Regions from separate parts of the Homo sapiens genome. Here region 2 is linked to region 1. The links come from fine-mapping of genetic effects on gene expression. A gene starts in region 1. The other region holds a variant in brackets. All regions are shown on one strand. Distances are between the middles of the regions.

Evidence for each region. PIP is the estimated chance that this variant, and not a neighbour inherited with it, causes the effect.
Region 2: its variant is fine-mapped to the expression of FSTL1 in whole blood (TOPMed, PIP above 0.99).

What each region holds. Positions count from the first base shown.
Region 1 is chr3:120,443,512-120,459,328 of GRCh38, reverse strand. FSTL1 (follistatin like 1) reads left to right here and starts at 8,337. Exons shown (of 11, transcript NM_007085.5): 1 at 8,337-8,432; 2 at 8,583-8,645. The coding sequence starts at 8,583. It overlaps LOC124900546 (a long non-coding RNA gene), which reads left to right and starts at 8,675. Exons shown (of 2, transcript XR_007096030.1): 1 at 8,675-15,817.
Region 2 is chr3:120,471,785-120,487,601 of GRCh38, reverse strand. It overlaps LOC107986121 (a long non-coding RNA gene), which reads right to left and starts at 449. Exons shown (of 3, transcript XR_001740868.2): 1 at 1-449. It also overlaps the pseudogene CDK2AP1P1. The variant T/C (reference allele first, on the strand shown) is at 9,298.

The DNA.
Region 1 (15,817 bases):
ATCTATGGACCAGGAGAACAGACTCTTCTGGCTAGGCTGCCAAGGCTGAAAGGATGGCATTTTAGGGCTTGCACCAGCTATCTTCTCAGCCACATGGAAAAACTAAAACAGCTGAATAAGCTGAGAGTCTGGGTGTGTGTGTGTGTGTGTGTGTGTGTGTGTGTGTGTGTGTGTGTGAAAGAGACAGAGAGAGAGAGAAACTTACATCATTGAGTTCTGCATTAGTTTGTTAGTGCTACCACAACTCTGGTAATTTAAACAACAGAAATTTATTTTCTCACAGCTCTGGAGGCCAGAAGCCTGAAATCAAGGATCAGCAGGGCAGCACTCCCTCAGTAGAGTCTGGGGAGAATCTGTTCCTGAATCTTCCAGCTTCTAGTGGCTGCCAGCAGTTCCTGGCATCCCTTAGCTTGTGGCCACATCACTCCATCCTCACATCACCTTCTTTTCTGTGTATCTTTTCTCTCCTGTCTGTGTCTAATCTTGCTCTGCCTCTCTTTTATAAGAATGCATATCATTGCATTTACAGCCCACCCAGATAATCCAGAATAAATCCCTCCTCACAAGATCCTTAAGTTAATCACATATTTGCCATATAAGATAATATTTGCTCTTTTGCCACATTAGATAACACTTACAAGTTCCAGGAAGTGACTCTATTTTGGTAGGGGTATGCTTTTTAGTCTATCACAAGTCCCATTTGAGTCCCCAAGACCTTAGATTCTGCAGTTCTTCCTTCAGCCCCATGAGCCACCTCAGTAGACTCCTCATCAGCCAGTAAGTTCCTTCCTGGCCCAGGCTAGCATGAATTGGTTCAGTCACTTGTTTTAAGGGTGTCTTAAATAACACACATCCCCATGTCTGCAGCAGGCTGGGCAGTGGAGGAAGTAGCAAGGTGCAGTAGACAGAACATTTGCTCTTTCATGAGTGTTTGGGAAAATCACTTCCCTTTCCCAGCTCTGCTGTTTCATAATCTTTGCAAATATTAAGCTTAAAGGACTATTGCATTTGTTTATGCTATCTTATTGTTTTAAACACCCTGTAATTATATTTACGACTTGATGATCATTTAAGGTTTTTTTCAAATGTGATTTAAAAGACCCAACCTAAGAGGCTTGAGCAAAAAGAAGCAGGTAACAAACCTAAAAGTCTAGAGCTATATCAGGTACAGCTTGATTTGAGGCCCTGATGATGTCACTGGACTCCATCTCCTGGTGCTGCCTCTTCAGGATTGGCAGTATCTCAGGCCCAGGTGGTGGCCCCCTGCAGCTTCAGAGTCACACTATCCAGTACCCAGGCCAGCAGAAAAGAGAGTCAGCCTCCCTAATGAGTAAACAAGTCTTGGAATTGGATTTCATTCACTCTACTGGTCTGACTTCTGTTGAATTCCTATTCAAAGTAATCACTATGGTCAAGAGGATGAAATGTAGTGATTGGCTTATCCTAGGCCATTTGCATGGTTGAAAAGTGGAAGAAGAATGATACTCTAGAGGGAAGGTGGATGCTGTTACCTGAAGTGTGGGGAAAGCATGCTGGGTGTGAAAGGAATCAGTGTGTACTGAATATTATGACATTAAAATTTTTATAAAATCCATTTATTCTTTGGGAGGCTGAGGCGGATGGATCACAAGGTCAGGAGATCGAGACCATCCTGGCTAACATGGTGAAACCCTGTCTCTACTAAAAATACAAAAAAATTAGCCAGGCATGGTGGCAGGCACCTGTAGTCCCAGTTACTTGGTAGGCTGAGGCAGGAGAATGGCATGAACCCAGGAGGCGGAGCTTGCAGTGAGCCGAGATGGCACCACTGCACTCTAGCCTGGGTGACAGAGCAAGACTCCGTCTCAAAAAGAAAAAAAAAATCCATTTATTTATCCAAATGAATAGGTCTGCCAAGCTTATAATGAATAGATGGATTATCATAAATCATACTTTTATAAATATAATACAAAAACGTATACTACCAACTTGCAGAATTTTCCAAATTAATTTGAAGGAGATCATGTGAGTTTAGTACCTTTAGACAGGGCAAAATAGGCATACATTCAAATTATGCATTACTTTGGATATGTCAATAAACACAAATATTTAATAAGTACTTTATTTCCCCAAGTTGCTGATGAAACCATCTTGTCACAGATGCTCTCAATGATTACACAAATGTCACCCTGAACATGATTAATTAACCATAATAAACACTGTACTCAACTCTTGAAGTGTTCTTTTGGCCTCAGTGTGAGATTCGATTTTCTGTAGCCATAGTTTGCAAACTTTGCAGTTACATACTACCACCAATAACAGTGAGGCTAATATATACATTATAAAACATGTAAAATATGAAATGAGTTAAAGATAAAATAATCAACATGCTTTTTTTTTTTTTTTTTTTTGAGATGGAGTCTCTGTTGCCCCTGCTGGAGTGCAGTGGCATGATCTCAGCTCACTGCAACCTCTGCCCCTTGCCTCGTGCCTCAGCCTCCCAAGTAGCTGGAATTACAGGGGCACACCACCACACCCAGCTAATTTTCTGTATTTGTAGTAGAGGTGAGGTTTCACCATGTTGGCCAGGCTAGTCTCGAACTCCTGGCCTCAAGTGATCCACCTGCCTCAGCTCTGAAAGTGCTGGGATTACAAGCGTGAGCCACCGCACCCGACCTAAAATAATCAACATTCTTTATTTTACTTATCAATGGTGAAAACACCTTTATGATCTCATTGAAAAAAAATAGTAGTACATTTAGTGATGGTGTTGTCATTACTTCATTTAGAATATATTTGCTAGACTGGGCATGGTGGCTCACATCTGTAATCCCAGCACTTTGGGAGGCCAAGGCAGGCAGATTGCTTGAGCCCAGTAGTTTGAGACCAGCCTGAGCAACATGGGGACACCCTGTCACTACAAAAAATACACAAAATTAGCCAGCATGGTGGCATGCACTTGTAGTTCCAGCTACCCAGGAGGCTGAGGCAGGAACATTGCTTGAGCCTAGGATGTCGAGGTTGCAGTGAGCCATGATGACACCATTACACTCCATCCTGGGTAACAGAGTGAGACCCTGTCTCAATAAAGAAAAGAAAAAGAAAATATTTGCTTAACATTTTGTGACAGAGAGCTGAAGGTCCAATTCTAAGCCCAGTTTATTTTGATATTTGGTATTATAGCTGTCAGAGCTGAAAAAGCTAACTCAGTGTTATGAGCTGAACTGAGTTCCTTCTAAATTCATGCTGAAGCCCGAACCCCCAATGTGACTGTTCGGAGATATGGCCTTTAAAGAAGTAATTAAGGTTAAATAAGGTCATAAAGGTAGAGTGCACATTAGATAGGACTCATGTCTTTGCAAGCAGAGGGAGAGACACCAGGTAAGAGCCATATGAGGACACAGGGAGGAGGCAGTCATCTGCCTGCCAAGGAGAGAGATCTCAAAAGAAATCAATGCTGCCGGCACCTTGGTCTTGTTATTCTGGCCTCCAGAACTGTGAGAAAATAAGTTCCTGTTGTTTAAGCCACCCAGTCTGTGATATACTTTTATGGCAGCCCTGGAAGATGAAAGCACCCACAAATATGGCTGTATTGGCCTGACTTTGGTCAAATTCCTACTCTTAAAGTAATCACTATGGTCAAGGGGTTGAAATGTGGTGACTGACTTATCCTAGGCCATTTGCATGTTTGAGGAGTGGAAGAAGAATGGTACTGTAGAGCGAAGGTGGGTATTGTTACCTGAAGCATGGCGAAAGCAAGCTGGATGCGAAAGGAATCAATGTGTACTGAATATCGTGACATTAAGACACTCTACAGATCTGGATGGAAGATGTGTACCATTGGCTCACCCACCAAATTACTCATTTTCCAGTCCTATAAACCATTCATGCGAAGGTTTTTTTGTTGAAATTTGGCTCATAAATTCCCATCTGCTCTGGAAATCAAAATTAATTGAAAGGTTTTTTGTTTGTTTGGCTGGTTGGTTAGTTTTTGTTTGTTTGTCTGTTTTGAGGCAGGGTCTCTCTCTGTCACGGAGGTTGGAGTAAAGTGGTGCAATCATGGGTCACTGCAGCCTCCACCTCCCAGGATCAAGTGATCTTCCCACCTTGGCCCCCTACTCCCCCCGTAACTGGGAATACAGGGGTATGCCACAACACCCAGCTGATTTTTATATTTTTTATAGAGACGGGGTTTTGCCACATTTGCCCAGGCTAGTCTCGAACCCCTGGGCTCAAGTGATCATCCCACCTCAGCCTCCAAAAGTGCTGGGATTACAGGTGTGAGCCACCATGCTGGTCCCAAGTTATTATATTTTTATATTTTCAACAAATGAGTAAATAAGCCACTGGAATTCTGTCTGAAGATTTTTAAACAGGTTAGAAAATTTTGTGTAAGTTTTTAAAATGTGCATACACGAGAGTTTTTATGGTGCCACACTTTTATTGTTTTGGATAACAAAATAGCCTAATGATAAGACATTTCCAAATATCTCATTTCAAAATATTTTCTCCACTGCATAGTTTATTTTTGTCTTTTGCTTTATTTATTGTAGAGTTAACCATACGCCACAGCACAGTTTTATCATCAGTACCTGTAAGAGCTCTCTAGTGAATTATTTCCGTAGTAATACATCTTATTTATATGCTTACTGTGTACCAGACACTATTCTAAGTACTTTACATATTGATACATTTAATCTACACAATAGCTCTATGAAATCAGTACAATTATCACGATTTTACAGATGAGGCAACTGAGATGCAAGGGGTTAAGTAACTTGCCCAAGGTTACATAATAAGTAGTAAAGCTAAGATTTACTACCAAGGCAATTTTGTACCAAGGCAGTCTGTCTCATAAACCCATGCTTTTAATTGCTACAGTACACCACAAAGATTGCACTAGTCACATGCTAACACTGATATTGTCCAACTGTCTGATTTTTGCCACTGTGATGAGTGTAAAGTGACATTTATAATTTACTGTATAACTTTGGACAAACTACTTAAACTCTGTGTGTGTTTCTTCATCTGTATATTGGAGATAATAAAATAATACTGATTTCAAATGGTTGTTGTGCAATTTAAATAATAGTAGTGATGTTGAGTATCTTTTCTATATTTATTGTCCATTTGGGGTTCCCCTTTTGGGAATTGCCTATTCATACCTATTGCCCTTTTTTATTGGGTTTTCTTTTTCTGATTGATTTGCAGGGTGTGTGTATGTGTGTGTGTTATGAGTTACATGTCAGTTTTAGACATTTATATCTCCTTCTATCATTTTGTCTATGGTGCCCTCAGTTGAACAGGAATCTTTCATTTCATTTTGATATACTCAAATCCATTAATTGTGTTCCAAATGTAGAGAGGATAAAGATATGAAAAACATTGTTTTTGCTCTAAGCAACTTAAAACTAGCTGGAGAATCAAGAATAACTATGAGAACAAGTGTTAAACATTGTATAGCAGTCTGCAATATAATGCCCCAAGTTGTAAGGCTGTGTAGCCAACAGTATAAACTTGGGAAAGTATCTAAATCTTCCTGAGCTTCAGTTTTATTTGGAAAACGGAAGCAATAAAAAAGACCTTTCCATTTACTGTATTTTTTAAATTTTTATTTTTTATTGTTATTATTTTTTTGAGATGGAGTCTCTCTCTATTGCCCAGGCAGGAGTGCAGTGGCACAATCTCGGCTCACTGCAACTTCTGCCTCCCGGGTTCAAGCAATTCTGGTGCCTCAGCCTCCCAAGTAGCTGGCACCACAGGTGCCCACCACCATACCCATCTAATTTTTGTATTTTTAGTGGAGACGGGGTTTAATCATGTTGGCTAAGCTGGTCTCGAACTCCCGGCCTCAAGTGATCCGCCTGCCTTGGCCTCCCAAAGTGCTGGGATTACAAGGCATGGGCCACCGTGCCCAGCCTCCTTTCTATCTATTGTGAAAATTAAATAAAATAAGAGATGTTGAATGGCTTTCATAGTACCTGGTGTATAGTACCAACTACAATTTAGATGCAAAGCCGATCATGAAATAATAATGGCTATCACATACAGAGGTCTACTACCTGCCAGGCACTTTTTATATGCATCTGCTTAAATTTCACAACTCCCTGCAAGGCATTATCACTGCCATTTGTCAGAGGCAGAAACCTAGGTTCAGAGGGCTTATTATTTGATGCAAGTCAGGCCATGCAGCTAGTAAATGGCAGTGATAGGATGGAAAGCCAGATTGGTTTGACCTCAAACCTCCTGTGCCTTCTACCATGCCAAGCTGTTGTCAGAAAAGATATGAAGGAAGCAAACTTGACGTGGTTCCTGAAAACAAAACAAACAAACAAACCCAAGCATTTTAGTAGATAAGAGGAAGGGAGGAAAGATGATACCAGATTCTGAGAGGGTGCAGTGGATCTGCAAGGGATGCAATGTATTGTGCGTTATTCGAGGGCAGAACTTTATCCACAATAGTTCCCTTCAATCCTTGCACAGTGACCAAGACAGAGTATCTGGTGCGGAACATCTATTCCCTAATCTTATTACCATAACAAGGGAGCAGGAGTAAGTTGTCTGACTGGAGAGTTTGAAAGAACTGGGGATGTGTCACTCTACCCCCTCAAGTTTGGGGAGCAGGCATGTCCCAGGAGGCACATATTTTCTGCTTTTCCATGCAGTTTAGTTTTTACACAGGCAGGTTTTCCAGCTCTGCTTGTGACTGAGTGGACATGTTCAATTCTGGGCCCGCTGTCCCTGCAGATCTAAAGCCATGGCTGCCATTCCAGCCTTTAGCAGAGACAAAGCTGACATTTTGCTCTCCATAAGTCTGACTCCTGTTGCTATCTCAGTGGATTCTGAACTTACATGGGGACCATGGGTATTATCTTGAAGCCCCCTAAAGCCACAACAGTGGGCACTCAACAAACCTTGGCAGCAGAGTGAGTATGACAAGTTCAGAGGACAACGAGGAGATGGGCCTGCTTTGAGCGGAGGAAGTATGCTGATGTAGTTGAAGAGAAGTTAGATGGACAGGGTGGGCCCAGTAATGCAGGGCTTATAAGAAAGGCAGAGTTTGGATTTGATGTGGGTAGAAGAACGCTGAAGTTTCTGAGTAGAGGAAGAACATGAACACGAGGAAGACAATGTTTAAAATAAGGGAAAGAATATGACAATGGATTGCAGTGGAGACTACAGGGGAGAGCCTGGAGTCAGAGGACAACGAAAGGAGGTTTCCAGAATTTCTGAGTGAGGGAGGATGAAGGTCTGGCCTAGGAAAGTGGACATGTGAACGGAGGCGAGGGGATGCATATGAGATCTCAGCGGCTAAACTGCCAGGCTATGGGTACAAGCCGGCTCTGAGAAAAGGAGATAGGTTTGAAGGCAACCACCCTGAAAGAGGTAGATAAGCAGGCCCTGAAGCTGGGGGAAGTGAGGCTTAGTCTTGGGCATGTGAAATCTGAGTTGCTAAGTGGATCTGCTCTCCTTACTAGTTATGGCAGGAAAGGCGCCTTAATTAGGAGCATTTTAGGGAGTTAACCCTGTCAAAGAGGTAGCACACTTTCGAAGGCCAAGGGCTGGGAAGAAGGTGGTGAAGATGGCAATCCTGAACACAGAGGCTACTTGGGATGACAGGGATGGGAGGAGGGACACAGGTGATGAGTGAGTGGGCGGAAGAGAGGAGGGGGACACCGCTCCCCGGCCCGAGGGAAGGAGGGGATGAGGCTGCCGGCAAACGCTGGACTCAGGATCTTCCCAGCAGAGCAGGGCGGCCGCCACCTCACCCGGGACAATGCACTGTAGAACCCACAGCAGCCTTCCCCACGCCGGCCGGTCTTCCCGGCCCTGCGCCCACTTCCCGGTGCCCCGCTGCCCTGCTGCCGTGACCCCGGGATGCGGGGTCTCCTCTGCCTCCCTGGGCCTCCCCCTTCAGCCATGGGGGGCGGCTCCGCTTCCTAGGCCGCGGGACGTCTTTTCCTCCAGGTTCCAGTCCCGGACCTTCCCGGGCCCCCCACGGCACCGCCCACCTGGCCACCGCCGCAGCCCGCCCGGGCCGCCGCCAGCCAGCAGCCCCTCCCGGGGTGGGGTTTCCCTTCCCCCTACCCCTTTGTGGCAGGGACCCACGGGACACCCCCTCTGCCTCCGCTCCACGTCCAGGGGGCCGAAGGGGCGCCGGACGAGGGACCGTGCGGAGAGAGGGGTTCGGCGGCGCCAGGACTCCCGCGGGCTCCCCGGAGCAGGGGTCGGAAGGAGGGGGAGCGGGAGCCGCGGGGGCCGCTGCAGCAGAAGGGGGAGGAGAATGGGGAGGAGCTGGGGGGGCAGGCAGGCGGGGAAGGAGAGGTCTTAAGGGGCGGCGAGGGGAGGTCGCATTTCCTCCGAGGCTGGCGATCGGCGGAGCTCCCACCTCCGCTTACAGCTCGCTGCCGCCGTCCTGCCCCGCGCCCCCAGGAGACCTGGACCAGACCACGGTGAGCGCAGGGCGCACGGCGCGGAGGCCGGACTCTTCGGGCGGCCGGGGGTGCTTGGGCGGCCGGAGCGAGCCTGCGGGACCCGAGCAAGTTTCCCAGGTCAGCGCGGGGCCCGGCGCCTTCAGACTCGCTCTCTTCTCTCTTCCGCAGATGTGGAAACGCTGGCTCGCGCTCGCGCTCGCGCTGGTGGCGGTCGCCTGGGTCCGCGCCGAGGTAGGCGAGGGGCCGAGGAGTCCGAACTCGGTCCCCGGGGCCTCTTGGGTCTGCGCGCTGGGCGGGTGGGCGCGCGTCCTGGGGATGCTCTCCCGGGGTGGCGCTGGGAGTTTCGGTCCTTGGGGTGTGCTGGGGTGGAGCTGGGGCAGTAATGCTGCTTACGAAACTTAAATCTTTAAAGCAGGAAAAGTAGTTCGGGCCGTAAGCGGGAGCCCCGCCGCGGCTAACATGGAGGGAGAGCGGGGAGGAGGAGAGGGGACGGGCTGGGCCGACGGGGACGAGGCGGCGACTGGAGCAGCAGCGAGTTCAAAAAGGCGCCTCAGTTCCGTCCTTCACTTCAGAGGAGACTGAGAGTAGTTGGGGACTTTTCCCTCCCAAGTCTGTCTCCTGGGGGCGGGGGCAGAGGAATCGGGATTCTTCTTTTGGGGCAAAATTAATTTTCCTTTCTCTCTTTTAAAGTGAGATCATGATTCTCTGAAATGTATTTTCTTCTTTGTGAAGTGTCCTCGGGTTTTGTGTTATCATCTGGGCAATGTAACGGCCTTTTCCCAAGTGTTCCCTGTAACGTTGCGCAAGTGTAAGAGAAGATCCATTGCTCTGCTCTTTGGGGGCTCGAGTTTCCAGTTAAAGCATTTCAGCGCTTGTTTTTTTGTACCAATTTTTTCAACTCTAACGACCTTCCTGAGACACTACAAACAAACCAACAAACTCTTTGCTCAGAAGCCGCTCCATTAACTCAAAGGTTTATGGACAGAAAATAAACAATTCTAAATTCCCCGGGCTCCAGTCTCCAGGAAAGTGAGGTCAGAAACTAAACATTTGATAATTATGGCAGGAAATATGGAAGGAATTAAAAAGCATGAGGGAGAAGAAATGGAATGCACATTACAAAAGAAATAGCTCCCTGGTGGGTGGTTTATGCTCCCTGTTTGAATTTTTTCCTTCATATTACAGTTTAACCACACCCTTAGCATCGCAGCTTGACTCTGCCCAAAAAAGTCATAAATGCATACAAGGTCTTCACAATTTTTAAAAAATACGCATTGTACTGAATTCTCATTTAATTCACTACTACGTTGTTGATTGAGGTGGAAACTCAATCAACTGTTTTTACTGCCAATGAAATAAAAGTAGCTAATATTTATTAAATATCTGCTATGTTGTAATAAAATTCCATTTTAATGACAGATAAATTGAGTCAGCGAAGGTTACCCAATGCTCTCAGCTATTAAATGCTAAGGGTGGGATTTGAACCCAAACAGTCTGGCTCCGGACCCAAGGCTCTTGACCATTAACCCACACCACTTCCAAGCACAATGGTTTAACATTTACCAAGTACATTTTTGTTTACCACACACTGGGCTGTGTACGTTACCTGCAGTTACTTCTTTTAAAGCTCCCAAACCCTGTAATGTAGGTTTTATTATCCCGATTTTACAGAGGAAGAAACAGGTTTAAGGAGATTAGGTAACTTGCCCAGGGTCATACAACTAGTTAGCTCTGAAGCAGGATCTGAACCTACCTCTCTTACCTTTGGAGCCCATCTTGAACTCCAGGTCTGCTTCTTATCCATCTGGTTTTCCAGGGTTTGCATTTGAGAGCGTATCCCCCTTCACTGGCTGATGTAGCCCTGGTTAAGAAACATTTCTCCATCCCCTGCTGTGGCCCTCAAAAGGCAGTTGCAGACCAGTGATGGATGAGGTGAATCCCTGGTTGGTTTTCCAGCAGGCTCAAGAATTGCCAGCCAGTGTGTGAAATCACTCAGTGAACTGGAATGCAAATATGAGGTGTGAGGAGGCTGTTGGTTGACTTACCAGGCTGTGTGGCCCAAGGTCTGGAATCTATTCTAGGCGGCCTGCAAGACACACACCCCTCCCAACCCCCTTCCACACAGGGAAAACTTATCCCTGGTAGGAAGTTCCCCCAGCAGCAATTTCCTGCTGGAGGTAGAAGAGCATCCAGTGCTCTCACATAATTCCCAGGCAAACTACAGGGAAGAAGGCAAAATAGAGAAGTACTGAGATGTGAAAACAGAGTGCGTTGGGGGAGAAAAGAGGCTGTGAACTCACAGTGTATGGAAATGGTTACAATGAAAAGAGTGAGGGGTAGGTATGAGCTAGGTTACATTTCATGGCTCCAGGTTATTAAGGATTATTATCTTTTAATTATTCCAACCTCCTGGTGCCTGGCCAAGTAAGATTTGGCAAGTTTTTAATCCATTTAATAATAATATACCTTTAACAATTGATGAAGAGGTACATTAACCCTCTCCCTATGGGAATTGTAATTTGGATTTTTTAAAAGCCTTTTATCTTGTAGTTAATGGTGCTTGCTGTTTAAATTTCTTCCTTGTTAACTCTAAGGACAGTCTGCAAAAATGGTCACATCATGATATTTACAGTCCTTAGTGACAATCTATTTTAGTAAACTTCAAATCGCTAAAATTGTACAAATATTGTTGAACTTTTTAGAAATGAAATTTAGAAAATAAATTGAGGCTTCTTGGTGCTTTCTGCTTTTCTGCGACCATAAATATTTAATTCAGCATATTTTTAAACAATTTAATCACTTTACAAATCATGTTGATATTTGAAGAAGCCAGAGCCTCTGTAGTAAACCAGAATCAGAGGTGCTCTCCACTTGGGAAAAGGTGATTGTCATCAGTATTAATGCCAGTCTATGTCAATCCCATTTGGTTAGATTCACAAAGCTATTAACAAAAGTCATAAAGGAGCCTGGGCTCAGTGGCTCATGCCTGTAATCCCAGCACTTTGGGAGGCCAAGACGGGAGGACTGCTTGAGCCCAGGAATTTGAGACCAGCCTGGGCAACATCGTGAGACCATATCTCTACAAAAAATAAGAAAATTACCTGGGCATGGTAGCACACACGCCTCTGGTCCCAGCTACTCAGGAGGCTGAAGCAGGAAAATCACTTGAACCCAGGAGGTTGAGGCTGCAGTGAGCCGTGATGGTGCCACTGCACTCCAGCCTGAGCAACAGAGTGAAACCTTGTATTTAAAAAAATAGAAACAAACTCATTAAGCAAAGTGTCATATTGTTTTGAATGTGTTCCATGGTGTCCTACTTCCTTGGCACCTCAGGGTTGCTTTCTGATTGCTTCTTCTCTTTCTTACCTGCTCACTCTCTTACTACTCTGTCTGCAGCATATACCTTCAGCCAGCCTCCCTCCAGATTCTGCCACATCCACCTGAGCACACACACCCATGCACTCTGTAGTCTGCTTGAAAGAAGGTACTGGGTGTAGCATATGTCTCTAGATGTGTGTAGATTAACATGTGAATGGACTAGGCAGAGAGGGCAGCAGCAGAGGGAGTGCCTGCACTAATAATTACACAGATATCCCTTTTCTAGATTCTCTGGGGAGAGGACTGTGTGAGCCTGCTCATCTACTCTTTCCCATCCCCCTCCCATTGGGAATTACTACAGTTCATTGAGAAGTGTTGATGGTGGATGCATAGTATGGAGCCTGGGAAAATGTTAAGAACACAGGCGGTAGTGTGTGTGCCCTTGAAGCTCAGTCAGTGGATATCTGTCACTCTAACATGGCAGGCTGGAGAGAACCCTGTGGCCCAACTGCCTGCTTTAGGAAGACAGCCCTGGCAAGTACCCAAGCATACCCCCACTCTCCCTTGGTGGATGTCTCTGCTGTCACTATGATTCCCAGCATTCCAGGTCTAGAAATTCATTATGATAAGTCACATGTACAGTTAACTGATTTGTAGTTCAGAATCCTCATTCCAGTAAGGGATCCATGCTTGACCCATGAACTTTGAGTGTATTACCTAAGAGAGAACAATAGCAATTCTACAAATAGATGTACTTCACTTAGCTCTAGACATGCAATACTAGAAGATTATGAGGGCTTTGTCCTGAGGCCACGTTTCTTAACCTCACCGTACCCTATTATCGGCATTGTACACTAGGGGTTATATTTGGGAGCTCCTCTATGTTCTTTAGAATTGTTCTGATGGTAGACTCAAGTAAGCCTTGCATCTAACCCATATCTCTGACTGCATCTTCTTGGTGCCACAACTTGTATTATTAACAAAGCTAAAAAGATCTCTAAAATGATCTCTTGCTTGTTTATCCTTTGGCAAATAAGCTACTTGTTGCAGTTCTAAAGACCATTGCTGGAAATTGGGGTGTAAAACATAGCAGGGGCTGTGCAGACTAGCCAGAACAGAAGGGCAAGCACCCAGCATAGGAGGCCCTGGCCATCGCAAGTGGCTTTAGAAGGTGGACACGTTACAGTTCCCCTAGAAGTCTCTGGATTGGGTGACAGAAACCAGGACTCCATCCCCAGGCTCATAGAAGCAAGTTGGAGAGGAACCATGAGGTGAAGATCTGGTCATGGGCTGAAGTGGATGTAATGATCCGAGAGGAAATGCCCCAAAGACGAAAAGAAAGTCTTTGAAGTCAGTGGGGCAGAGCAACACATGCTGCCACAAGAATAGGAAGTAAAGGATGAGCTGTAAATTACCAGTGATCACATATGAGAATTGAAAATGTCATGGATTCTTTGTCTTAGTCCTCTTCAAATAACTGGACATCTGGCAGAATGTTTCTAACAGACATAAATTTTATTAGCTTAATGATACCAGTTAATAGGGAAAAAAAGTACATTAGATAGGTTCACTTTGTAAGCCAGATGATTAATGTCCTCAGAGGGCAAATGCATACTTTTTGTTTAGGATGCTCTATTCTGACTCCTGCGATTTTGGCAAGGGGTGCTTTCTCTGAGAGTATGCCATGAATGGCGTGGCCTTCCCTTCACTGTCCTCATCGAGCCTATCCCCTGCTGCAGCTGAGCGCACCTGGTACTCAGGTCAGAGTCACAGTGAAGCACAAGGCATGGTCTCTGCCCTCACATTATTTACAGTCTAGTGGTGGGTCCAGGTGCTTTAAATCGTGGCAGCTACAGTTTATATTATTATAACTACATAGTAACTAGTAGCTTTATACTTATTGCTGTTTTTTTTTTAATTTACATTAATGTAGGGCCTTCCTTTGTAAGATCCTTTTATGGTAGCAAAATGCACAAATCTTCCATGTATAGCTTCATGAACTTTTACATCTGGCCCATGTAGGCACCATGCGACAAGACTGAGGGAGTTAGTACAGAAAGGTATGAACCTGTATGTTACCATGAAGTTACATACAGGAAAAGTTACCATGAAGAAAATGAGGGATAGGGATGATCTAGGGTACATTTCATGACTCTCTGCCCAAAGATGGCTATCTTTTAATCTGTCTCTTCTCTTGGTGTCTAGCCCAGGTAACATTTAGCAAGTTTTTAATCCATGTTTTAACAACAGCAAACCTTCAATAATTAATGAAAGATAAATTAATCCTCTCTATATGAGACTTACTATTTGGATGTTATTTTTAACATTTTAACTTGTTAACAATAAATGGCTTTCCTTGTTAGCTACAAGGATGTGCAGCAAACACAGTGAAATACAGCCTTAATTGACATTAATCCATTTTAGTAAACTTTAGATCTGCTTTGGGGAGCTTTCTTGACTGTTTTGTGGATGGATAGATATTCCAGGGCTCACTGTAATCTATATTGAATTCCACAAAGAACTCAAATCATTCTGTTAGACCACTTTGCCCTGGTCATTATTACTTTTGAAAGGACTCTACATAAGATGTCAGTCATGTTATTTATGACAGCAAAAAACTTAACATTGACTACATAGTCAACCGTAGGAGAAGGGTTAAATAAATCATGGAACAGCTGTATGTGCCACCAAAAGCATTTACAAAAACATTTTGAAGCGCCGGCAAATGATTATAATTTAATTTAAAAAGCACACACCCCCCAGCTTTATTCTCACGACTGTAAAAATTTATAGAAAAGTACAACAAACAAATGTGTTAGAAATTATCTGTAGGTAGTGGATTTATGGGTCATTTTATTCTTTGCTCTAGTCTTTTCTATATTCTCTAAGCTTTTAATTGGCATATTTTATTTTCATATTTTATCAGAAAATAACACATTAACTTTTTTATTTAAATAAAATACCACATATTAGGAGAAGGGAAAATTCCTCTCGAAAAAAGGAGGGGATCACAAGAATCGTCACGATGTCAAGGCACTGGATGAAATATCCAAGGGGCAGGACTTCAGGGATTGCTTAAGGAGAAAAAGGTGGGGTGGTAAATGGCCTTTCAGAGATGGCACAGACGTGGCATACATATTACCATTACCCTCTCCCTTACCCATGACAGACATTTCTAATCAATCATAGAATTCTTTCCTACTGAACTTGGAGAAGGTTTGAAAATCCTACTCAGCAATATTCTAGGTAGCCACTAGCAATCAGAGTCTATATGAGATGAAAGCTATTTACCATCCCTGCTGGATGGTAAATCAGTCCAATTTGACAAACATTGACACATCTTTAGCCAAAATTAAGATAATTAGAAGACAGAGTTTGGGACTGTATGAAACTGACAAAAACAACATAGGGTAATAGATGATAGAACTGGGTTAGCAAATGGATGAAATGTCAGGAAAATAGCACTTACACCAGATTTTGGCCCAAGTTTCTAAGCTCTTTGGATGAATCTGAACACCTTAAAGTAAGCCAGACCTTCTAACATTGGCCCAGTCAACAAAAATATAACGAGAATTTTCTTGGCTATTCTGATGAAGTAAACAGTTGCTCTTGCTAAAGTTCTAAGAGCTGCTGCTGTCATAGATAACAGCTTTTGCATTAGCCTGGCAATAACTTGCTAATAGAATGCTCTTTGGGTAGTTGGAGTACAAAATAATTCCCATAAATCTTCATTTCCTGCTTTGGTTGGAGGATTTCCATTTAATCTTTTCACAGACTTTAGATGCTCATTTGGAAGCCATCACCAATAAACTATTCCCAGGATTAGTCTGAATGTATGACCCCCATATGTCCCTTGAATAATCCTGGACACCATTTGTGACCAACTAAGCTGTTGACAAACAGGTCATATGATACATGACAAAAGCTATCACATGTTGCAGGCCCAGATTTATATGTGCATGCATGTGTGCATGTGTGTGTGTGTGTCATGGGATATTGGCTTGAATTGATGTAAGGAAAACGTCTCTCTGTCTTTCTATACTTTTTGTTGTTTCAAGATTTAAAATCCTATGTCTGAGGCAAAA
Region 2 (15,817 bases), 28 kb before region 1:
TTTCTGAATATATCCAATCCAAAGTAGTTAGCGTTCCCAGAACATTCCAAGTGGGTGACCAATAGCAAACAACTCAGTGTGATCTAAAGCACTGATTTCTGGTGTTTTCTTCAAGGACGTTTTTGGTTTTCAATCTGTTAACCATAAGGAATATTGAATTTAGCAAAGTACATTGACGTTTTCTATGCAACATGTTAAGAACAGCTGAAACCAATTAAATGCTAATCAATTTTATTCTGTCTGATGTAGAGTGGAAAAAAATGTTCCAAAGGTCTCTCCACCCTGAGATGTTCTTGGCAACAGGTCTCTGTGCTGTGGGCCCCCTCCCATCTCTCTTAGTCATGTACCCTCAAGAAGAGGAGACCTGGCCAACTCCCTTCAGATCTAAGATGAGAGCAGAACTGAGTCCAGCATTTTCCCTTGAAATAAAAGTTTATCCTTCCAAAAGCACAGGCAACCAAAGTGAAAATAGACAAATGGGATTGCACCAAACTAAAAAGTTTCTGCACAGCAAAGCCAGCAATTAAGTGAAGAGACAACCCATGGACTGGGAGAAAATATTTGCAAACCATATGTCTGATAAGGGGCTAATATCCAAAATATATAAGAAACTCAATTGCAAGAAAACAAATAACTTGGTTTTAAAATGGGCAAAAGATCTGAACAGACAATTCTCAAAGAAAGATACAAGTGGCCAACAGATATATGAAAAAAATGTTCAGACATATCTAATTATCAGGGAGATGCAAATTAAAACCACAATGAGATATAGCCTTACATCTGTTAAAATGACTATTATCAAAAAGCTGAATGATTACAAGGGTTGGTAAGTATGTGAAGAAAAGGGAACCCTTGTATACTGTTGTTGGGAATGGAAATTAGTACAGCCATTTTGGAAAATAGTGTGGAGGTGCCTCAAGAAAACTAAAAATAAGGCTGGGAGCAGTGGCTCATGCCTGTAATTCCAGCACTTTGGGAGGCTGAGGCAGGCAGATCACCTGAGGCCAGGAGTTTGAGACCAGGCTGGCCAACATGGTGAAACTCAGTCTCTACTAAAAATACAAAAATCAGCCAGGCATGGTGTCAGGCACCTGTAATCCCAGCTACTCAGGAGGCTGAGGCAGGAGAATCTCTTGAACCCAGGAGGCAGAGATTGCAGTGAGCTGGGATCGCACCATTGCATTCCAGCCTGGGCGACAACAGTGAAATTCCATCTCAAAACAAAACAAAACAAAAAACAAACAAACAACAACAACAAAAAACACCTAAAAATAGAATGACCATACGATCCAGTCATCCTGTTTCCAAAGAAATTGAAATTTGAAATTAGTGTATCTAAGAGATACCTGCACTACCATATTCATTTCAGCATTATTCACAATAGCCAAGATATGGATTCAAATTAAGTGTCCATCAAAGGATGAATGGACACAGAAATGGTGGCATATATACACAATGCAATACTATACAACCTTCAAAAAGAAGGAACTTCTGTTCTTCACAGCAACATAGCTGGAACTGGAGGAATTTGTGTTAAGTGAAATGAGCCAGGCACAGAAAGACGAAATACTGTGATTTTACTTATATGGAAAATCAAAAAAAGTCAATCTCATAGAAACAAAGAGTAGAAGGTGGTTATCAGAGGCTGGGGCAGGAGAAGGGATAAGGAAAGGGACAATGTTAATCACCAAAAAGTACCAAGTTTCAGTTAGACTGGAGGGATAAGTTTTAGTGACCTATTGCACTGTATGATAGGTGACCACAGTTAATAATAATGTATCATATATTTCAAAATTGCTAAAAGAATAGATTTTTAACTATTCTTTTATTGTCTCTTCACTATTAATCTCCCAACAAAAAATTATGAGTTGGTGAGGTAGATATATTAATTAGCTTCATTAATCTTTCTCAAATGTGTATAAAACATAGATCAAAATATCACATGGTACCCTATAACTATTTGGTTATTAAAAGTATTTTTTGTTAATTAAATTTTTTTTTAAAATTCATCCTGGGAAGAAAGAAAGCTGCAACTCTGAGGCAATGTATATCACAACTATGAGAATAGGAGGGGTGGAGGAAGACAGTGAAATCCAGCCACATCCATCCTCTGTGGCCACCTCATGGACTTAACCAACCATCTCTATTACCTAATCTCCTAATGCCAGTTCCCCCAAGCTCCACCTTCTTCCATAAGAGACAGACAGCAAAGCCAAAGGTTTTCAAATCCAACAAATTAAAGTTTGAATTTGGGCTCTGCCAGTTATTAGACGTGACATTAGACAAACTATTTAATCTCCCTGAGCCTCAGTTTACTTATTTGTAAAAGGAGAGTAATAATACCAACTTGAAAAATTAAATGATTTGAGATCTATTTTACAACATGGTGACTAAATTTAAGACCAATGTATTGTATACTTGAAAAATGCTAATAGAGTAGATTTTAAGTGTTCTCACCACAAATAAAAGATAAGTACATGAGGTAACATGTAGGTTAATTAGCTTGACTTAGCCCTTTCACAATGTACATACTTCAAAATATGTTTTATACCATAAATGTATACAATTTTTATTTGTCCATGAAAAAAGAAAATAATTAAATGAAATAATGGGATATCTGACACATAGTGGGTGATCAATAAATGCTAGCTTTGTCCCACACCATTCCTTCTAATAAATTATTTTTGTACCCTTTCCTATATTCAATTCATTTCATTTTTCTATTAGCCTTGTTCAAATATGTTGGAGTGTGTGTGTGTGTGCATGTGTACATCTGTGTGTCTATCTGTCCTATTGTATCTTTCCTGGAGGACAGATGGATAAGAACGTGTATTAGGAAGCTACAAGCCAAAGTGTCCTGATATGCTGTGTGCACAACAGGGAACAGATCACTCTTGATCATATCTAGGGTTTTTAGCCTCTAATCCCAAAGCCCAAAATTCTCTGGGCTTCTGGAAGACAGCCACAGTTTTCAGCACCAGTCTGTGTGTGTGTGTGTCTGTGTGTGTGTGTGTGTGTGTGTGTGTGTGTGTGTGTGTGTATAAAAATCTGCTACTGGGAATGGAGATGAAAGAATGTCATACAAACTAAACTTGACCTTGAAAATGCCTACCACCTCCCTCAACTCAGCTGAGAGCTTGTCACCTTCCATGTCACCTTCTACCCATATGGTATTATTCTCACAGTACCACCAGCTGCTGAGTGACTATAGGCCACCATCCCTAGGCTACACCCAGGGAACTGGAAACAGCCAAGTGACCCCAAAGCAAATGTGCTAAACTGCTGGCTATCATCCAAGAGCTGAGGGAGTGATCAGATCCACCTGTACAGGGAGCAAGAGCACAATGAAGAGACCAAAACAAGTTATCACTCATGCTAAAGGACTAGTTTGGGAGTGCTTGGTTAAAACAGAATGGAATGCCAGATTCTAACCACCTTCATAGTTTTGCGAGGTATTCCATCTTTTTACAAGATAGGAAGTTACAGTTCATCTCCCCTGTCCAGATGAAACATGTTTTCAAAATGGTAATCATTTGGTTTTTCTTCCTGGTTTCTTTCCCGTGGCTCAGTAGGTTCTCAAACTAGCAAAGATCTTACAGTTGATTAGGATTTGCATTTTAAGTAGTTAGAGCTACTCAGATTTTTTAAAGCATTGATTTAAAAGATGCAGGTAAAAGTTTTTTGTCCTACAGCAAACTGTTGCTTGCCTCCAAGATACCAGTGTTGCACATTAATCTTCTCTTTTGAATACATTCATGCACCTAAATTGTTTTTTGTTCCATTCCATAAAGTAATACACCTCTATGAATTTTATTTTTGATGAATACTGACAGCACTCTTTACTTAGTAGCCAGTCCCTGGTTTGCCATACAGTATACATTCTCTATAAGTTCTTTTTTGCTTAAGTATTGCATCACTATCAATGCTTTGAAATTAAAGATGCACAAGTTATAAATACAGAATAAGGAGTAACCAACTAAACTTAACTATTTTTTACTAAGATTGTATGTAGATTTTAGTTCTATGTTTGCTGTAAGTTCATCAAAACATATTTCAAAATGACTAAAACTACTTGCAGATTTATATGTATTTATTATTTGATGTAATAAAGCTTATGTTCATTAACAATAAGTAAATAAAAATAAATAATTAGACCCTAACAGATGAACAATTACATTAAATGCAAATAGTCTAAATGCATTAACTAAAAGAGATTGGTAGATTGGTTTTAAAAACATGATCCAACTAAATGCTCTGTGCAAAAAACTTGCTTTAAATATAATGATATAGGCAGGTTGAAAGTAAAAGGATGGAAAAAGATATACCATGCAAACATTAATCAAAGGAAAGCAGAAATGGTCATATCAATCACATAGACTTAATATTAACAATATTCATAAAGTAGACTTCAGAACAAAGAAAATTACCAGAGAAGGATACTATGTAATAAAAGAGTCAATCTACCAATGACATATAGCAATCCTACATGTGCTTGTACCAAACAACAGAGCTGCAAACTATGTAAAGCAAAAATTGATAAAACTGAAAGGAGGCCAAGTGCAGTGGCTCACACCTATAATCCCAGCACTTTGGGAGGCCGAGGTGGGTGGATCACCTGAGGTCAGGAGTTTGAGATCAGCCAGGCCAACATAGTGAAACCCCATCTCTAACAAAAATACAAAAATTAGCCAGGCGTGGTGGTGGGCACCTGTGGTCCCAGCTACTCAGGAGGCTGAGGCATGAGAATCGCTTGAATCTGGGAGGTGGAGGCTGCAGTGAGCCGACATCATGCCACTTCACTCTGGCCTGGGCAACAGAGCAAGACTGTCTCCAAAAAAAAAAAAAAACTGCAAGGAGATATAGAGAAATCCTGAAGGAAAAGCAGATTTGAATCTGTTCAGAGGATTGGAACCCAGAGAACATGACAAGAATGGAAAACCATAGAGGCTTTACCCTCCAAAGAGGCAGTGGGCTGAGCTCAGTGAGAGACAGCATCTGCTAGGTAAAACAAGGCCTGAGGATGCTGGGAGAGTATAATATGCACGATGATGTCAGACACATATTGCTGAACCTTTTTTTGACTCAATAATTATTTTAATGTATATTACAGAAAAAATACATTGGGCACAGTAGGTAGAAACATGGTTACACAGACCATATAAATTAACAGACTCTGTCATGAATGTTTCAGACATTCATATACTGAACATTTCAGCATGACTTTTATTTTTATTTATTTATTTTTTTGGAGACAGTCTCGCTGTGTCACCCAAGCTGGAGTGCAGTGGTGCGATCTCAGCTCACTGCAACCTCCGACTCCCAGGTTCAAGCAATTCTCCTGCCTCAGCCTCCCAAGTAATGGACTAGAGGCGCCCGCCACCACACCCGGCTAATATTTGTATTTTTAGTAGAGACAGGGTTTCACCATGTTGGCCAGGCTGGTCTTGAACTCCTGACCTCAAGTGATCCACCCACCTTGGCCTCCCAAAGTGCTGGGATTACAGGCGTGAGCCACTGCGCCCAGCCTCAGTATGACTTTCTGGAAGCAGGGATGGTAAGAATGACTGCTCCCATCGTTTCACCCCTGGTAGTCTAGATGGGCTATCATTCCCATATTAAGATTGCATCCAAATGGCGGTGGACTGCCAAGGTGCCCCATCTGTATCACATCACCAAGCAGGGGCACCACTCATCCTGAATTAAGGAAGCATCTAGGTTTAATGCCAGCATTAGTCACCCAACTGGCCAATCTTAAGCCTAGATCAAGGAGTTCTTCACATGTTTAAATCATGCAGCTATTTTTTGTATGCATCTTATAAATATTTATTACTTGATTGTCATGGTTTTAAAAATTTTACCTTTTAAAAGTATAACTTTTTTGTTTTCATCATGTTTATAGAAGCAGTACATTGAACAAGTGTGACTGTGACACAATCAAAATCCAACTTCGTTTTCTGTTTCCTGTGTCAACTCTAAACTTTATCCAGTGGGGAAAGCTTTCTTTCTACCACTGGAAAATAACCCAGCAAGCCTGGTATATATGTGTGTGTGTGTGTATATATATATATATGTGTGTGTGTGTGTGTGTGTGTGTGTGTGTGTGTGTGTATATATATTTTACTAATGCTTAGATAAAAGACAGTCTTACAGACTTTTATGTGCAAACTCAGTCTTAATTTGGTAGTTTGAATATCAAGTCCTAGATATTAGTCAGCTCTTCCATTTTCTTCCTGTTCCCTAGGCAAGGCTTCTACTTGACAGCTGCCTGTTTTCCAGAAAGGGAGTGTGGTTGGTTTCTGCTCTCCCCACTCACTTCCTCCTTCACTTGTTAGCTGAAGTTTGACTTCTCTCAGGGACAGAAAGGGGCAGGCTGGAGGGACAAGAGGTATAGGTCAAAGGACAGTACTTGCTGGCTAGTGGCTGAGAGCTCTCTGGGTCAAGCAGAAAGTCGAACGTGGCTACCTGCCTGGGCACTTTCATGGAGATTTCCATCATTCCATGGTGCAGGGTACCTAATGATGTCTAGTTCAAGTGGTCATTGATAACTTCTTTGAAAGCCTCTAAAAAACAGCATTCCCCTCTGGCTTCTTCTTGCTAGAAGAAAGCAAGAATTCCTCCAGGTCACTCAATTAGGACGGCAGGTCAAGACTAACACAGTAACTTCTACATTTTCTTGGGTGGGAGTCAGGAGCCATTGTCCTATATCCCCTAAGTGCAGAGAGCACCTTCCATAGCTCTCCTTGTAGTTCCAAGGAAGCTTCTTGCACTAGGTTTCTTTTTTTGTTTGTTTGTTTTTATTATTGCACTACGTTTAAGGAGAAGGCAGTACCCCCTCTCTTGGGTCTCTAGCATAGCACCAGGTCCCTCCTAAAAGGTCTTCCACAAATCCTCCTCTCTCTTCACATTCTGACTTATTTTAAATATCTTTGATTGAGCTAAGATATCCAAAAATCGTAGAACAAGCTCTGCACAAATTCCTTCGTAAATTCACATGTGAGGAGCCTGTCTCACATGAACTTTGGTAATATACCTACTTTATTGAAGCCTCAGTCAAAAATGTGGTTGGAAACCTCATTCTAACATCCTGCTATATTTATTTGTTTGATTACCTTCTATTTTTAAAAAGTGGACCAGGCATGGTGGTTCATGCCTGTAATCCCAGCAATTTGGGAAGCTAAGGCAGGTGGATCATTTGAGGTCGGGAGTTTGAGACCAGCCTGGCCAACATGGTGAAACCCTGTCTCTCCTAAAAATACAAAAGTAGCTGGGTGTGGTGGCATACACTCCAGCCTGGGTGACAGAGTGAGACCCCATCTCAAAAGAAAAAAAAAATAATATCTTTTTTCCATTTATGATAGAGAACTTATTTTTTAAATTAATATACTTGATTATATAGTGAATCAATTTAAAGAATAAATATTAAATAATGAAATACAGGAGATACATATATAGGACTGAAAACATAGAGATGGTAGGCTGGGTGCGGTGGCTCACGCCTGTAATCCCAGCACTTTGGGAAGCTGAGGCGGGCGGATCATGAGGTCAGGAGATGGAGACCATCCTGGCTAATATGGTGAAACCCTATCTCTACTAAAAATACAAAAACAAAATTAGCCAGGTGTGGTGGCTGGCGCCTGTAGTCCCAGCTACTCAGGAGGCTGAGGCAGGAGAATGGCATGAACCCGGGAGCTTGCAGTGAGCCGAGATCATGCCGCTGCACTCCAGCCTGGGCGACAGAGCGAGACTCTGTCTCAGAAAAAAAAAAGAAAAGAAAATGTAGAGATTGTATATAAGTCATAGTCATAGTCATCATATATTATAAATCAAAGGTATTTTATAAAGATTAATTTAGTGCCAGGCACAGTGGCTCATGCCTGTAATTCCCAGCACTTTGGGAGGCCAAGGCAGGCAGATCACGAGGTCAGGAGTTCAAGACCAGCCTGGCCAACATGGTGAAACCTTGTCTCTACTAAAAATACAAAAATTAGCTGGACGTGGTGATGGTGGCGCGCGTCTGTAACCCCAGCTACTTGGGAGGCTGGAGCAGGAGAATTGCTTGAGCCCGGGAGGCCCCCCAAGGAGCTTGCAGTGAGCCGAGATCGTGTCATTGCACTCCAGCCTGGGCAGCAAGAGCAAGACTCACTCAGTCTCAAAAAAAAAAAAAAGAAAAAAAAAAAGAAAAAAAGATTAATTTAATAGAAGCAAGAAGAATATGTTGAAAGGAGGAGCAACTTTTTAAGTTGCTTTTTAAGTTTTAAGTTACCATTTTATGTTAACTTTTTATGTTAACATAACTTATGTTAACAGACCGTTTTATGTTAACTAGTTTAAGTTACCGTTTTATGAGTCCTGAAGACACACACAAATACAAGATTATGAAGAAGATTTAGTAGAGGTATGAGTGACACTTGGAAGTCGAATGCTTTCTGAAAGTTCAATTATAACACAGACTGCAGATTTGCTTGCCATATTCTCCAACTTATAAGGAAACTGGCCCATCCCTCCCAAATAAATCTTAAATAAAAGCAGTACATTCAAAGGGGCCTCATTCCCTATCATTCCCTAGCCACAGTTGATTGTTCCAGGATGGGAAATTGGTTTGAGTTTGGCCCATTAGACATCTTCATTAGGAATTTGGAATCATGACCAAGAGAATAAAACTCAGTTTGATTTCCCCCTTCAACAGTGAATGGATTCACTATTAGCGTGCCAGAAAATTATATTTCTGAACTTGTAGGATGGACAGTCCTCATCTCAGATCCTAATATGTGTCACTCAAACTTGTAGAAATGAATGAACAGAAAACCAGAATTCTGATTTCTAAATTTGTAATAATAAAATGATTTAATAAACTAGATACTTTGATGTACAGATCAGCATATTCTGTCACTGTAAGTGAATCTATATAAGCAGCCAAATCATCAGAAATTTTCATGAAATCAGAACAAGAGATGCTAGCTGAGTGATCGTGGCTGGTGGACCATGATAACCTGATGAACCCACCTCTTCCAAGCGGATCTACTAACCTTGAGAGCCAAATCCTTGTGTTCTTTAGTTCCGACTGCCTTTTATTTGACCCACTTACTGGTTCTAACTTTTTATTCTTCCACTAACAGCTAACCCACTTTTTAATTGAAACTTTGCTTTTTAAATATCTCAATAGCGGTAGCCTGAATAATGGCCCCCCAAAATATGTCTACATTCTTATCCTAGAACCTGTGAATGTTACCTTGTTGGACGAAAAAAAGGTCTTTGCAGGTGTGATTACATCAAAGACCTTGAGATGAATGGGAAGAT[T/C]ATCCTGGATTATCCATATGGTCCTAAATGCAACACAAGTGTCCCTCTAAGAGAGAAGGGGAGGCAATTTTAAAAAGTGGTGGTATATACCAGATGGTAGAAATCAGCTTTCTCACATTCTAGGGTGATTGGTAATGGCTTGGAGGAGAGATGTCCAGCAGGGACCTTTTGAAGGACGACCATCTGTACCTTTGTAATAAGGGAGATGCCTGGAAGGCAGCAGGAGCTTCTCAGGACTGCTTTGCTTTTTGTTGTTGCCAGTGTTGCCTAGGAAAGTTCTTCACCTTGTTGATAAAAACTGGTTCTGGTTTCCATCTTTTCCATACTTGTGAGCCGACCTCATAGTGTTCCCTTGGAGACACCAGCACTAGCCAGCTGTCCCCCCTCCTCAGAGATCTGAGTTTCAGCTACGTGGGTCCCTCCTCTGAGTTCAGAGGCACCAGCAGTGACAAAGAGCCCCCAGCCTGGCTTCAGCTCAGCAGGGCCTCTCTTCTAAGCTTCTAGATCCAGATCACGCTGCCTCTTCCCTTATTTCCCCTAGCCCTAGGAATGGTGGCTGCTTCTTGCAATTACGTTTTCACACTTTACCTGGACAGTCTTCCAATACCTGTTTAACCACTTTCTTAAGTTATTTCTGAAAAAATAACTAGTGTGGCTTTTGTTTTGTTTTATTTTGTTTTGAGACAGGGTCTTTCTCTTGTTGCCAAGGTTGGAGTGAATTGGCGTGATCTCGGCTCTCTGCAATCTTTGCCTTCTGGACTCAAGCAATCCTCCCACTTCTGCCTCCCGTGTAGCTGGGACTACAGTTTGCACCACCATGCACGGGTTTTGCCACGTTGCCCAGGCTGATCTTGAATTCCTGGGCTCAAGCAATCCTCCTGTCTCAGCCTCCCAAAGTGCTAGGATTACAAGTGTAAGCCACTGTGCCTGGCATGTTTTCTTGATTAAACCCTTTTTATTAGAGCCACAGACAGAAGATGAGAAGGCAGCATGAACACAGAGGCAGAGATTAGAGTGATACAGTCACAAGCAAAGGGATGGCAGCAGCCACCAGAGGCTGGAAGGGGCAAGGAACAAATTGCCCCCTCGAGTTTCTTCTTCTTTTTTTTTTTTTTGGAGACAGAGTTTCTCTCTTGTTGCCCAGGCTGGAGTGCAATGGCACGATCTCGGCTCACCACAACTTCTGCCTCCCAGGTTCAGGCAATTCTCCTGCCTCAGCCTCCTGAGTAGCTGGGATTACAGGCATGCACCACCATGCCCAGCTAATTTTGTATTTTTAGTAGACACGAGGTTTCTCCATGTTGGTCAGGCTGGTCCCCCTCCAGCTTCTGAAAGGAGAATGACCTGAAGGGAGCACAGCCCTGCTGACATCCTGATTCAGGCCTGGTGATACGGATTGCAGACTTCTGGCCTCCAGAACTGTGAAAGAGTAAACTTCCATTTTTTAACCACCCCATTTGTGGTCATTTTTTACAGCAGCCAACGGAAACTAATACACCAATGCTCACAATTTCAGCTTGAGAGCCACCCTTTCTCTTACAGGTGTCTTTACATGCCTGAATTCTAATTCATTGTATCTGTTAAGTAACTGGTATACAAGTAACAGCAACTGACTTTAGCTACCTCCTAAGCAAAAAAGGGAATTTGTAAATAGTGTACAGGGGAGTCTGATAGAGCCTGAGGTCAAGGATGCAGCTGGACCTCAAAAAAAAATGGATCCCTTGTAATCCCAGCACTTTGGGAGGCTGAGGTGGGAGGATGACTTGAACCCAGGAGTTTGAGATGAGCCTGGGCAACATAGTGAGACCCTGTCTCTACAAAAAATAAACAAAATTAGCTGGGTGTAATGGCATGCACATGTAGCCCCAGCTACTCAGAAGGCTGAGGCAGGAGATGGCTTAAACCTGGGAGGTCAAATCTGCATTGAGCTATAATTACACCACTGCACTCCAGCCTGGGTGACAGAGTGAGACCCTGTATCAAAAAACAAAAGCAAAAACGAAAACAAAAGCAAATGGATCCAGGCAACCTGGGGATCGTCTTTCACAATTGCTCTTCTCTGCTCCTTTCTGAGCATCTCTCTGCTTCATGGCCTCTCTTGCTGCTGCCTGGCTTCCTCTGTGACTCAGCCCGCATAGCAGATAATGGCTTCTACCAATGCTTTCAGCTGTAAATTGTGTTTCCTCAGCTGTTAAATGAAGAACTTGAATAATACACTCCGCAAGCTCCATCTGGCTCTGAAATTTGATGGAATTCTATTAGGAGTCCTGTGCAGTGGATGACAGGTGGGATCCTGAGGAATGGAGAGCAGGCCTGTGTGAGACCCAGCTGTGCAGGAGCAGGCGCACCTCAGGAAGGTGGCCCAGTCTGACCTTAGAGTGCCGAGTGGGGATCTCTTCAGGGGCCTAGTGAGATCATGGGCTCAGCCACACTGGAGAAGAGCTGGTGACACCTGGCATCAAGGTGGGGCATCCTGAGTCTGCACCTTTAGGCTGGCACTATCCACTTATATGCTGATGATTGGCAGAAACTCCAGGTTTGTCATTGCCTATCTCTAATTAGCATCAATAATTTATTCATTCCTTCCCCTGTTTTGATAGGAAGAAGCCCCACCCCCCGGCCTTTTTTTTTTGTTTAATAAAATGAGTTATCCTGCCAACCCCCACCTAACTATTCCCACAGAGCACCTGCTTGAGGTAGGTTCAAATCAGCCCTCAAGCCACAGTGTGACTAAACACATCTATGCCCACACAGAGAGTTCAGGAAATTCAACTCCACCACCTGCCAAGACACAAAACCTCACTGTAGGCCTCTTAGCTTCTTACTGATCCTGATTTGCATCTTCTTTCTGATCCCGGGATTTGGAGCCAGCAGAAAGCCCAGGGGATTTCTTGCAGAGGCTAAGGTGGGCTTCAATGGTGGGGATATCTGTGTTCCCGGACCTGGCCTCAAGCTGGCTCCTGGTCTTCATGAAACGAAACAGCCACCTTCCTTACATGGATTCCGCCATGCACATCCCACTTGACCTTGTCTACTCCAGCCAGACTAAATTGCTTCCTGTTCATGGCTTCTCTCTTCCCTCTGGGCTTCTAAATTGCCCTTAGCCAGAAATTCCCATTCCCACCCATCCCATCATCCAGGTCCTTCACCTGGATAGCTTTCATCTGCTTATAAGATACTTCCTTTGGGACATGCTCCCTGACCCCATCTCACTGAGGTTACCCCTATGTGTTCCCACAGCACCCCTTACTTGTCATTAAGCTTCTCACTCTGGCTGGCAGTCAGCTATTTACTTTTTTGCCTCCTTCCACCAACTGGTAATTCCAAACTTTATCTTTTTTACCTACATCTCCTGTACTTAGCACAGAGTCTGGAACATGGTGGAAGCCCCATAAATGTTCAGTGATGACAGGATCAAGTGCACATTTACTCACTTTCATCACCTTCCTAGGGACCACCAGCCCCTTCCATGTTTCCTACTTTCAAACTGTGGCCCCTTTCATATTATAATGAGTATTTCATCATGAGGCATAGTGAAAAATGAGATGCTGAGTACCCTAAACACAGAAGAGGCAATGTTTTCTTAGATGAGCTGCCTTTCTTGTTCACAATGAACTAAAGAAGGTTTTTCTAGGCATGGCAGATATTCTGGGAGATTCAGGAAGGGATATAGGGAGAGAAACCAGCCTTTCCTGCATCCCAACTTGAACCCTGAAGGGAGGATTTCCAAACATTCTCCCAGCATTGTTATGGGATGACATACATTCACCCGCTCTGAGTTCCTCTCATGGCTTTATTTATCATGCTCCCATAGACTGGAAAGCAGAAGGAATTCATTTTAAGACTTCAAATTATGTGCAGCATTTGATTAAATCTATCTTGAGAAACATCACTCATTGGCCTGTCTGGAGCTATTGTTGTGTGGTTAGCTCAGCACATATTTTCCAAGCACAAAATAAAAGGGTTAATGTGTGGAGATTCAGAAGAAGTCTCTTATTTGGCACTTGTACCAGCTATGAGATGGTTCCTCAGAACCATCCCACCACTAAGCAAACCAACCCTCTCTGAAGGGTCCAAGCTACTCCCCACATCCTCAAGATTTTACAGGAGCTGTGGTGCACCTCAGGGAGGGGCTCCCACTCAGGAAGGAGGCATTTTTCCCTGCATGGAATAAGCCATGGAAAGAGTCCCAGTTCTACAGGACTGAGAATATGACTTTAAAAAAAAAAAAGCAGCATAGACATAATCACTGCTTCTGTAGAAGCCACATCATTAACTTCCAACCCCCAAGTGAGTGTCTGAGTTGGAGAAAGAGAATGAAAGAAAAATAAGGTCCTGAGGCAACAAGAAGGAACCCTTACTTGACTCTACAGAACTGACCGTGTCTGATGTGCACACGTTATATTACTCTAGACCAGTGGTTCTCAACCGGTAGTGATCTTGTCCCCAGGAAACACCTGACAAAGTCTGGAGACATCTTTGGTTGTCACAAATTGGGGAGTGCTACTGGCATCTAGTGAATAGAGTTCAGGCTATTTGAAAAGGCTTCAAAAGGGAGGATCTAACTCAGGCTTGCGGGTTAGAAAAGGCTTCCTGAAAGAGGCATATCTAAGATACACCCTGAACTACCAGTGAAAGTTAATCAGCTAAAGGATATGGTGGTTCATGGCTTTCTGGAGACTTTCCCCCTTCTTCCTTGATGTTGACCTCAGTCCAGCACATGTATGAATTCCTCACATTTTTCTGGGTGACAAGATTTAGATAAGTAGCCTCATTCTCAGCCCTGGCCTCCAATATTCCCAGCTTCTCTTCCCCATTCCCCTGCCCTACTGCTGAGGGGCCCCCTGCCTTGTCGTTGGACACCACTACATACAACCTGGGGCTCATCCTCACTCCAACACCTGCAGCTACATCAGGTGGTACCAGGTTTCCCACCTTCATCACTCCCTGCAAGAAAGTAGCCACCTCAAAAGTGCCAAAGAACCGTTATTCTAGAAACAAGTTAATTTGAGTTCATGCATTTATTGGTCTGTCCCTCACTGTTTACCTTCTTAAGCACTGGTTCTCAAATGTGGCTTCACATTAGAATCACACAAAGTTTTAAAAATGACTATGTCCCCAGAGATTCTGACTTTGTTGGTACGGGTGCAGCCTGAGCTGCAGGAGTTTTACACTCCTCTCAGATTATTCTAAGAGGCAGCAAACACCAAGGACCACAAAGCCCTGTCCAAGCATGTTGGGCCGCAACATGGAAGCAGTACACTGATGCTCTCTGGCCCCACACATGCAGCCAATGCTCTCCCACATAATCTTCCCACCTTGCCCATCTGCTCCGACTAGTCCTGCCTTGGTCCCCATGGAATTTTCCATTCATTACTCTTAATTTTGAACAGCATTATCAGTTCTCCCTTTCAACTCAGGGTCTGTTCAGTTGCCTTAATCACCTTCCCATTCCCTATATTCTATTCTACCCAAGTACAACCTTACTTCTGCTTCCCCACAACATAAGATCGTTTATCTTCTTATCACATTCCCCTATGTGTAAATTTATTGCTGCAGTGGCAATTTACCACATACTTATTGACTTAACACATAAATTTATTCTCTTACAGAAATGGGTTTCACTGGGCTATAACCAATGTGTCATCAGGGCTGTATTTCTTCTGGAGGCTCTACGGGAGGATCCATTCCCTGACCTTTTCAGCTCCTAGAAGCTGCCTGCATTCTTCGGCTTGTGGCCCCTCCCACCATCTTCAAAACTAACAGCATAGCATCTTCTAATCACTAGTTCTCTGACCTCTGCTTTGTCACTTCTCTTCCTCTTATTCAGACACCCTGTCTCCCTCTTATGAGGACCCTTGGGCCAATCTGGATAATCCAGAATAATTTTCCCATCTCAAGATCCTTTACTTAGTCATATCTGCAAAGCATCTTTTGCCATGTAAAGTAACACATTCACAGGTTTGGGAAATTAGAACATGGATATAGATATCTCTCTGGGGGTGGGGGGTGCATTCTTCTATCTACCACACCCTGTTAAGGCAGCTGTCAGCTTTGTAATCTGTCAGCTTTCAAATACCTAGAGGTTCTGAGATCTTTAAAGATGGAGACATTGTAACACTGGACTTTTTGGACCTATTTCCAGTAAAATGAGAAGGATGAATCAAGCCAGCACAGCAGGTGACGTTGGTGGTGATAGTAGTGATTTTGCACCCCTCACCCTGGGGATATCTGACAATGTCTGGAGACATATTTGGTTATCTCATGTGGTGGTGGTAGTAGGAGGTTACTACTGGCATCTAGGTGGGTTGAGGCCAGCGCATGCACAGAACAGCCCCTCTACAACAAAGAATTATCTGGCCCCAAATGTCAATAGTGTCAAGGTTGAGAAATGCCGAATTAGACCATTCCTACTCAAAAATGTGGTCCGTTAACCAGCAGCCTGAGTATGACCTAAAAGCATTTTAAAAATGCAGAATCTTGGGCTCTGGCCCAGAGCTATTGAATCAGGGTATGCATT